Linked DNA regions of Homo sapiens. The protein of the gene in region 2 purifies or fractionates together with the protein of the main gene of each other region. This does not show direct contact. Each region holds a gene or a part of one and is shown on either strand. Other genes may lie near its edges.

Region 1 (3,656 bases), on a different chromosome or scaffold from region 2:
TGTCCATTTTTTCTTTCTTAATATTATTTATCTGCATCTACTTTCTTCTTTTCTTAATTGTTCTTGACAGAAGTTATAAACCTTTTAAAAGAGTCTTTAATTTTTTGATCTCTCTTTTTTGCAATTTTATGATTTCTGTTCTTTATTATTTACTTTCTCCTGTGTACTTGTTCTGTTTCTATCCTCTGAGTTGGACAATTAGTTCATTAATTTTTGGTCTTTCCTGTTTTCTTTTTTTCTTTGAAAAATTTTATTATAAACATGATGCTTTGATATACATGCAGTGATATGGTTACATACATGCAAATTAACATATCCATTATCTTACATAGTTACCTCCTTTTTTTTTTTTTTGCGAAAGCACATAAAATCTGTCTTAGCAAAAAATCCAGAGTATAATACAATATTACTAACTATAGTCCTCCTATTGTACATTAGATCTCCAGACTTGTTCATCCTACATATCTACTACTTTGTATCCTTTGATTTATATCTCTCCATTTCCTCACCACCACCACCACCCCACCCCGCTGACCCCTGCTAAGTATTATTTTATTCTCTGTGTGTATTCATCTTTTTTGTAGATTCCGCATGTGGTTAGGCATGGTGGCTCATGCTCATAATTCCAGCACTTTGGGAGGCCGAGGCGGGTGGATCACTTGAGCCCAGGAGTTCAAGATCAGTCTGGGCAATGTGGTGAAACCTCTTCTCTACAAAAAAAATACAAAAATTAGCCAGGCATGGTGGCATGCGCCTGTAGTCCCAGCTATTCAGGATGCTGAGATGGGAGAATCACCAGAGCCCAGGGAGGTTGAGGCCTGTAGTGAGCTGAGATCGCACCACTGCACTCCAGTCTGGGTGACAGAGTGAGGCCCTGTCTAAAATACAAACAAGCAAACCCCAACCCTGAGATTCTGCATACAAGTATAATCATGCAGTATTTTTCTGTGTGTGGCTTATTTTGCTTAGTGTAATGTCCTCCGGGTTCATCCATGGCAAATGGCAAGGTCTCGTTTTTTAAGGTTGAATAATATGCCACTTTATACACAAACACACACACCCATACATGCACCCACATCATTTCTCTATCCACAGACACTTTGGTTGTTTTCATATCTTACCATTGTGCATAATACTTTCTTCTTTATTTTTATTTCTTATTGTTTTTTTGAGATGGAGTCTCCCTCTGTCACCCAGACTGGAGTGCAGTGGCATGATCTCAGCTCACTGCAGCCTTGTCCTCCTGGGTTCAAGCAATTCTCCTGCCTCAGCCTCCCAAGTAGCTGGGACTATAGGCACTTGCCACCACGCCCAGCTAATTTTTGTATTTTTTTTTTTAGTAGAGATGGGATTTCGCCATGTTGGCCAGGCTGGTCTCGAACTTTTGACCTTGGGTGATCCGCCCACCTTGGGCTCCCAAAGTGCTGGAATTACAGGCATGAGTCACCACGCCCAGCCTGTTTTGTTTTGTTTTGTTTTTAAAGTATTAAGGTTAGAAGTTTCTGTCTAAATACAACTTTAAATGCTTCCTATAAGGTTGTTTATTTATTTTAGAGATAAGGTCTTGCTTTGTTGCCTAGGCTGGAGTGCAGTGGCACAATCATACCTCACTGTAACCTTGAACTCCTGGGCTCAAGTGATCCTCTCGCCTTGGCCTTCCAGAGCGCTGGGATCACAGGTGTTGAGCCATCGTGTCTGACTTGAGTTTTTGACATTGAATATTTTTATTATGGTCATTTCTCAATATTTAAACATTTCCATTATGCATTTCTTTATAGCCCATGAGTGTTTATTAAGAAGTGTTTAAAGTTTTTCAAACAAATGGTTGTTTTGGGGTTAGCTTAATTCTACTCTGTTCAGAAGGCATGTTCTATATGATATAGATTCTTTTATTTTTGTTGAGATTTGATTTGTGTGTAAAACATGGTTGTTTCATAGAAGGTCCAAGTGTGCTTGAGAATAATGTGTATTCTTTTTTTCTTGGGTGTATTGTATTAGATCAAATTGACTAATTTTATTGATCAACTTTTCTGTTTTTTTATTTGCTTACTTATCGGTTATCAAGGAAGGTATATTGAACTCTCCTAGTATGCTTGTAGATTGATCAGTTTCTCCTTTTTTGTTGTTTTTTGAGACGGGGTCTTGCCCAGGCTGTAGTGCAGCAGTGCAATCACAGCCCACTGCAACCTTAATCTTCTGGGCTCAACTGATTCTCCTACCTCAGCCTCCCAAGTAGCTGGGACTACAGGCACGCACGGCCATGCCTGGTAATTTTTGTATTTTTTGTAGGGACTGGGTTTTGCAATGTTTCCCAGACTGGTCTTGAACTGCTGGGATCAAGCAATCTGCCCACCTCAGCCCCACAAAGTGCTGGGATTACAAGTGTAAGTCACTGCACCCAGCCAGTTTCTTCTTTTAATTGTATTAATTTTGAGGCTATCTTATTGATATATTTAATCTTAGAATTGTTATATATCTTTCTGGTGAATTGTTTCTATTATCATTTTGAAGTTGTCTTCATGATTTCCAATAGTGAATTTTGTCTTAAAATCTTTTTTGTTTGATGATAATGTAGCTACACCAGCCTTCTTTTGACTGATGTTTGCCAGGCTTATAATTTTTCCATCCCTATACATCAAACTTTCTGTGATCTTTTATAATTTTTAAAAACCGTTATGTTATATTCAGCTAGATTTTTAAAAATCTTACTGAGAATCTCCCACTTTTAACTTGTCATTTTGATCCATTTATATTTATTGTAGTCACTGCATATTTGTGTTATTATTTTATTTTGTACTTTCTTTCTTTTTTTTGAGACAGAGTCTCACTCTGTCGTCCAGGCTGGAATGCAGTGGTGCAGTGTCGGCTCACCGCAACCTCCGCCTCTCAGGTTCAAGTGATGCTTGTGCCTCAGCCTCCCGAGTAGCTGGGACTACAGGCATACGCCACCATGCCCAGCTAATTTTTTGTATTTTTAGTAGAGATGGTGTTTTGCCTTGTTGGCTAGGCTGATCTCAAACTCCTGGCCTCAGGTGATCCGCCCGCCTTGGCTTGCCAAAGTGCTAGGATTACAGGCATGAGCCACCACGCCTGGCCTTATTTTGGACTTTCTTTATATCATGTTTTTTCCTTTTTTCTTTTTTTTAAATGCATATTTAAAAATTTTTTTTATTGATACATATTTGTACATACTTATGGGGTATATGTGATGTTTTGTTACATGCATAAATGATTTAAGTTAGGGTATATGGGGTATCCAGCATCTCAAGCTTTTATCATTTTTATGTGTTGGGAACATTTAAAGTTCTTTTAGCTGTGTTGAAATATTCCTTTTTTTCCTTTTTTCTTCTTCTTTTCCCATTAGATTAAATTTCTTTATCCCTCTCTCTCTCTTTTTTAAATTCTGCTGATTTGGAAGATATACTTTTAATTTATTATTGTTTTGATGGTTACCCTTAACTAATTTTTTAACCTTTTTATAGAAATAAAAAAACCCTGTAGGAAAGTGCAGCTGTCATAAATTTCACAAGCTGAAATCACTTACAGCACCCAGATAAAAAAAACAGAACATTCTTAGCATGTCAAAAGTCCCCTTTGTGCTTCTTTCTAGTAAGTACTACCCTTGACCCTTTGCAGATAACTATTATTCTGACTTC
Region 2 (2,928 bases):
CTCACACACACACGCACACACAACACAATACACACACACACTCCCTCCTCCCTGCGAACATGCCGTGGAGCCCGCCCCCTCGGAAGGGAGCGCCTGGGCTTCTCGCTCTCGCCATTACCTGTCATCTCGGACTGCGCACTTCACTTCCTGGCTACGTGGCACTTTCCAACAGCTCCCTTCGCCTTCCGAGCCAAGACTCCCGCTTGCTTCAAATTTCTGACTCCACCGTCAACAACGCCCACCATCCACCCACCCATCCTGGAACCCACCCCACCTCCGTGGCCCGGGACCCCCAGCTCCCGCTGTGACACGACCCGGGAGAGCCCAGGTGCGCGTGGAAAGTACCGCGGCGGCGTCCTTAACCTTCGTAGGAAATCCGGTTCCCTTTGAGGATCGGATTCAAACCAGGGGCCTCTGCCAGGAAAACGCGTGTGCAGATAATCCCAGGAGATGCCTGGACGCTGGAGCCCACCCTTGACTCCCGGGGGGTGGGGGTGGGGGCTTCTACTGTCCCCTCAGCGCCTGTATGGAGCATTCACACTTCGTTTTGTTAAACATATAATTTTTTTATTTTGAGCGTGACACTTCTCCACTAGATAGCAAGGAAAAGTGGTAACAATTACACATTACACAAAAGTACTGTACCATTGCCTTTATCTTGAAGGTTTCGGAAGCCTCTACAGTTAATAAGTTAAATAAAGGGCTTGAGTACATAAATATTTGTCTAGGAACCCTACCGTATCTACAACACAGTAAGAATCTACGGGAGGACAAACTTTTACCATACCACGCTGAGTGCAATTGCGTTATAACATTTCAAATATACAAAGCTCTGTTCTTTTTTTTTTTTTTTTAATAACAATGGTATGTACAGAATCAATAATCACAGTTTGGTGACTTCAACAGTCCATATTCTAGCAGAGTATTATTTCCCTTTGGTTTGATATAAAAACCTTGGTTGGTGTATGATAAAGAAGAGAACAAGAACAAGACGCCCCTTTCCTTTAAGTGCACTGTTAGCTATCTTACAGGCTCGCATTTGCTTCCCGGGCCCTGGCTTCACGCTGGGGCCCTCGCTGGGGAGATCAACTTCGAGCGCCAAAATGCTATTTAAAAAAAAAAAAGAAAGAAAGAAAGAAAGAAAAGAAAGGCTAAGTGGGGTGTCAGGAGGAAGAGGTTGGGCTTTTTAAATTTTTTACTTCAATATCAGGCGTCTGGGGGAGAAAACCTCCCCGATATTTTCAGGAAAGTAAGAACAAGAGAGAGTGGATGTTGGAGTTGGAGCGAGGTTGGCAGTAGCAGGGGCAGGGGCAGGGGCGGGTGGACAGCCAGCCGAGGAGGTGCCACGTCCCGGAGCGCCGAGGGCTGCCATGCCCGCATCCAGACTGCTGTGAAGGCGGCTGCGCTCTCTCAGTGCCGTCTCGGGAGTGTGCTGGTCCTCTGTTTCCATTTGGTCTTGAGTGGTGCTGAGTGAGGTGACCTTTCGGGGCGCGCGCGGGGCGCGGGTGTGGAGGGCAGCCTTTAGCACACCTCCTTGCCCGTGCTGGTGCCCGGCAGGATGTTGAGCTGCGTGAGCTGCGCCGCGTGCTCCTTGGCCTTGAGCCTCAGCGCGGCTATGCTAGAGGCGCGTCTGTCTGCGGCCGCCGTGGCCGGGTCGGCCAGGGCGCCCGATGCCACTGCGCCCTCCACGGCGGGTGTGGGCTGTCTCAGGAGCGCGGCCGCGGTCGACGCGCTGGTCAGGGGGGCCATTGTGGAAAAGAGCCTGCAGGGAGAGCAAACAGCGCGGTCATGGCCTCGGGAGCTGTGCGCGGCGCCTCGGGCAGCGTCTCCCGCCGCTTGTCGCCGGGGCAGCTGAGGGGCGCGGTACCCACGGGACCCGGATGGGCCGCGGCGGGGAAGTGGGCAGAGGGCGCGGGCGGAAGCTGGACCCCGCAGAGAGGGCTTTCCTGGGGCAGGGAACCGACTGGGGGGAAAAGACCGAGTCCAGATATTCCCCGAGGGGCCGGGCCGGGCCGGGGTCCACAGGCCGGCGTGGAGACCTCAAGCCCCACGGCCCAGTGGCGTGGATTCGGTGGTTTCGCTTAAACGGACGGTTTATTCCAAGGCCAGGGGCTGCAATGACACTATCTCCCAGGAGAGAATGCGGAAGGAGAAAAGGAGAGGAGAGCAAAAGAAGGGAAGGTGGAGGGTGGGAGGGGGGAGGAAAAAAAAGACGGAGAAGGTGGGATTCCAGCTGCCCGGACGCACGCCGCAGGCTCTGAGATCTCCCTCCGGCTCCTTGGCCCGGGACTTTCTGCGCCCTGAAGAAACAGGCCTAGCTCGCCGGCCTCCCGGGCCACCCGCGCCGCCGCGGCCGCCCTTCCGCGCGGGACTCAGCTACCCGCGTCTGGCCAGCGCCTGCGGGTGAGAGTGAAGGGCGACCGCCTGTTGATTTCGGCTCCACGGGCGGGTGTCACCTGCCAGCAGCCCCACATCCTGGCGCGGCGACCCCAGCTGTCTTCCCCGCGCCCCTGTAGCCTCTGGCCTCAGGGAGCCCCCGACCCACGACCCTGGCGCGCGGCGCAAGGCGATGCCCAAGCCTGGGACCCACGCCAGCGCCACCGCCTCCAAGCGGCGACCGAATTACTCCACGTGACGCTTCCACCCCATGCACACAGCACCGGGACATTAGCTGTGGCCGGAGCCGCCCGGGGCCACCGGACACCACCCCCACGCCCACCGCCTTGGAGCGCCCGCGAGCTTTCCCGACCGCCTCCCTGAGGGGTCTGGCTCCAGGCCCGCGGGGCCAATTCCGGATTTCCAGGGTTAGAAATGAGCCCACCTGGGCTCACCGAGCGCCGCCTCCTTCTCCCAAGCCCACTGCTCACTCCTCGCACCACCCCAGCCCAGACCCTCTTCCAGCCTCTCCGAATCTCGCAACTCGGTCCT
Region 3 (3,656 bases), on a different chromosome or scaffold from region 2:
CAAAAATTAGCTGGGCATGGTGGCGTGTGCCTGTAGTCCCAGCTACTCAGGAGGATGAGGCAGGAGAATCGCTTGAACTTGGGAGGTGGAGGTTGCAGTGAGCCAAGATCGCACCACTGCACTCCAGCTTGGGCAAGAGTGAGACTTTGTCTCAAAAAATAAATAAATAAATAAATAAATAAATAAATAAAAAGGTGAGACCAATTTAAAAAAATGAAGCCCAAGGCAGTAAATAATTTTATACTTTTTTTTTCCCAGGAATGGTGGTTAGGTAAAAAAATATGCTAAGATAAATATGGATCCTAATCACAACCATCCATGCTTATAACCAACCTGTGCAGGTTTTACCTTCATTTGCCTTAAGCATACCTGCCCATTTGCCTTCTTCCTATTATTTTCAAATGTAATATGAACTTATAAGTATTTTATGTGTCACCTTAATATTTAATTCTTTTGCCACTAGACTTGGCTTGAGAGGGAGACGGCATTTATTTTTCTGAAAAAAGGACTGTACTCGTTCCATACTTCTTTGGAGAACAACCTATAGAAAGAGATGTGATACTGTAAGTACATAATGAAAATGAAGATCTATTTTTCAGACAAGTTATGCTGTGGATACAATTTATAAAATGCCCAGTTGTCAAACGGTGAAAAAAAGGTTGTTACTAAAGAGAGTTAATTTTTACTATAAAACTAGAATGGCCAAAGGCTATAAATATAGTGGGCAAAGGTACATTTGGCCAACCAATGTATACGAAAATGTTAAAGCTCACTAATAGTCAAAGAAATAGAAGCCAAACAAAAATGAATGCAGTTTTTCACCTATCAGATGAAAATTTAAAACAACATCCTGTGTTAGGAAACGATTTCATAACTTATTGGTAGGGAGAGAGGTGTACACAGGTGTAGCTTCTTTTGTAGAGCAATGTAACAACTATTATAACTAAAAATACATGTCGCTCTTGACTCAGCTATTTCACCTGTAGGAATTTTCTGAAAGAAATACTAGCAAAGAAATAAAAATGTACACACCAACCAAAGTTCATTGCAGTATTGTTTAGTAAAGAGAAAACAGGTAAACAATGTATATAGAGGTAATAGTTTATAATTAAGATTGTATGTAATATTTCCCCAAATTAATCTATAATTCTTATCAAAATTCCAACTGCCTTTTTGCAGCAATGGATACACGGTTCCTAAAATTCATATGAAATTGCAAGTGTCCCCTGAATAGCCAAAAATAATAATGAAAAAGAACAAAGTAGGAGGACTTACATTGTCCAATTTCAAAACTTACTATAAAACTATGGTAATTAAAAAAAGTATAGGCTGGGTGGATGGCTCATATCTATAATCCTAGGACTTTGGGAGGCCAAAATGGGAGGACTGCTTGAGCCCAGGAGTTCAAGACCAGCCTGGGAAACATGGCAAAACCCTGTCCCTACAAGAAAAAAAAAAAAAAAAAAAAAAGACAGGCATGGTGGCAAACACCTGTGGTCCCAGCTACTTGGGAGGCTGAAGCGAGAAGATCACTTGAGCCCAGGAGGCTGAGGCTGTGGTGAATTGTGATCACACCACTGCACTCCAGCCTGGGCAACAGAGAGACCTCATCTCAAGGAAAAAAAGGAAAAAAAAAAAAAAAACAAATATAGCATATGGATAGACATATATGATATAGAATTGAGAGTCTAGAAAAAAACCCATATATGTGGTCAACTTTTTTATTTAAAAATTTTTAACAGAACACTTCACGAATTTGCATGTCATCGTAGTGTAGGGGGCATGCTAATCTTCTCTGTATCATTCCAATTTTAGTATATGTGTTACCGAAGCAAGCACAGGGTCAACTGATTTTTGACAAGTACGCCAAAACCATTCAAGAGGAAGGAGGGGGTCTCTTTAACAAATGGTGCTAAGACAACTGGATAACCTCATTCAAAAGAATAAAGTTGGGCCTCTACTTCATACCACAACGGATCAAAGACCTAAACATAAGAGCTAAAACTAGAAAAGCTTAGAAGAAAACACAGGTGTACATCTTTATGGCATTAGATTTAATGATGGATTCTTAGATATGACACTAAAAGCATGAGCCACAAAAGAAAAAAATAGATAAACTGGACTTCATCAAACTTAAACATTTTTGTATTAATATATTAAAGGACACTATTAAGGAATTAAAAAGACAACTGCAGAATGAAAAAAATATTTGCAAATAGTGTATGTGATAAAGGTCTAGTATCCAAAATATATAAATAACTCTTACAACTCAACAACAAAAAAGACATTCCAATTTAAAATGGACAAAGGACTTTGAATAGATATTTCTCCAAAGAATACAAATGGCCAATAAACATATGAGAATGTGCTCAATATCATTAGTCACTAGGGAAATTCAACTCAAAACCACAACGAGATACTGCTTCACACCCACTAGAATGGCCATAATCAAAAAACAGGAAAAAAAACAATGTTGGTGAGGATGTGGTGAAACTGGAACCCTTCTATATTGCTGGTGGGAATGTAAAGTGATATAGCTGCTACAGACAATAATTCTATGATTCCCCAAAAAGTTAAGCACAGAACTACCATATGACCTAGCTCTGCCATTCCTAAGTGGAAACAGTTGTTTAAACACAAATTTATACATGAATATTCATAGCAGTATTCTTTTTTTTTTTTTGAGACAGAGTCTTGCTCTGTCGCCCAGGCTGGAGTATAGTGGCTCGATCTCGGTTCACTGCAAGCTCCGCCTCCCGGGTTCACGCCATTCTCCTGCCTCAGCCTCCCGAGCAGCTGGGACTGCAGGCGCCCGCCACCATGCCTGGCTAATTTTTTGTATTTTTAGTAGAGACGGGGTTTCACCATGTTAACCAGGATGGTCTCGATCTCCTGACCTCGTGATCTGCCCGCCTGGGCCTCCCAAAGTGCTGGGATTACAGGCATGAGCCACCACGCCTGGCCAGCAGTATTATTATTAATAGTCAAAAAGTGGAAACAACCCAAATGTCCACCAACTGATGAATGTTTAAACCAAATGTGGTATATCCACACAATGGAATATTATTCAACCAAAAATGGCATGTAGTACACATGCTAGAACACAGATGAACTCTGAAAACTTTATGCTAAGTGAAAGAAACTAGACAGAAAAGTCCATGAAGTGTCCAGAATATCCATATAGAAGTATAGACGTATCCATATTGACAGAAAACAGTTTAGTGGCTGGGAGGGGAAAATGGGGACATGCTTTCTTTTTGGTGTGATGAAAATACTGTGGACTTTGATAGTGGAGGTAAAGGAATTCAAGAAAACAATTTTCATCAGAAAGGAATAAATAAGCATGGAAATAAATAAGCATGGGAAAATCACTGATTTTAATAGGTTGTGAAATATGTTCCTATATATTTTAAACAATCTTTGAATTTATCTGCCCCAAATAGCATGGGTATAGTTAGAGTTCTACTGGGAGTCTACCAATAAAGAATAGCAACTTAATTAGTCAGCACCATAAAGATCCTTCCTTTAACATTAACACATTTATATTACCTTTTATGGGTACATACCTGTCTGGCTGATCCACTAGCCTGCCTTACTTTTTCTGCTACTCCTCCTAAAAGCTGTACAAGTTTCGTCTGTTTTAGAAGTTCTTCTCT

What was found.
Region 1: the proteins of ARX (region 2) and MRRF purify together in Homo sapiens (affinity purification with mass spectrometry; one large-scale study listed by BioGRID and IntAct). This does not show direct contact.
Region 3: the proteins of ARX (region 2) and PIK3C2A purify together in Homo sapiens (affinity purification with mass spectrometry; one large-scale study listed by BioGRID and IntAct). This does not show direct contact.

Annotation. Positions count from the first base shown.
Region 1 is NC_000009.12:122,274,756-122,278,411, forward strand, and holds part of MRRF (ribosome-recycling factor, mitochondrial isoform 1 precursor), read left to right. Parts: intron 1-3,656. UniProt on the Homo sapiens protein: Responsible for the disassembly of ribosomes from messenger RNA at the termination of mitochondrial protein biosynthesis. Acts in collaboration with GFM2. Promotes mitochondrial ribosome recycling by dissolution of intersubunit contacts.
Region 2 is NC_000023.11:25,003,149-25,006,076, forward strand, and holds the end of ARX (homeobox protein ARX), read right to left. Parts: intron 1,763-2,928; coding exon 1,522-1,762; 3' UTR 546-1,521; downstream 1-545. UniProt on the Homo sapiens protein: Transcription factor. Binds to specific sequence motif 5'-TAATTA-3' in regulatory elements of target genes, such as histone demethylase KDM5C. Positively modulates transcription of KDM5C.
Region 3 is NC_000011.10:17,113,925-17,117,580, forward strand, and holds part of PIK3C2A (phosphatidylinositol 4-phosphate 3-kinase C2 domain-containing subunit alpha), read right to left. Parts: coding exon 3,567-3,656; intron 542-3,566; coding exon 437-541; intron 1-436.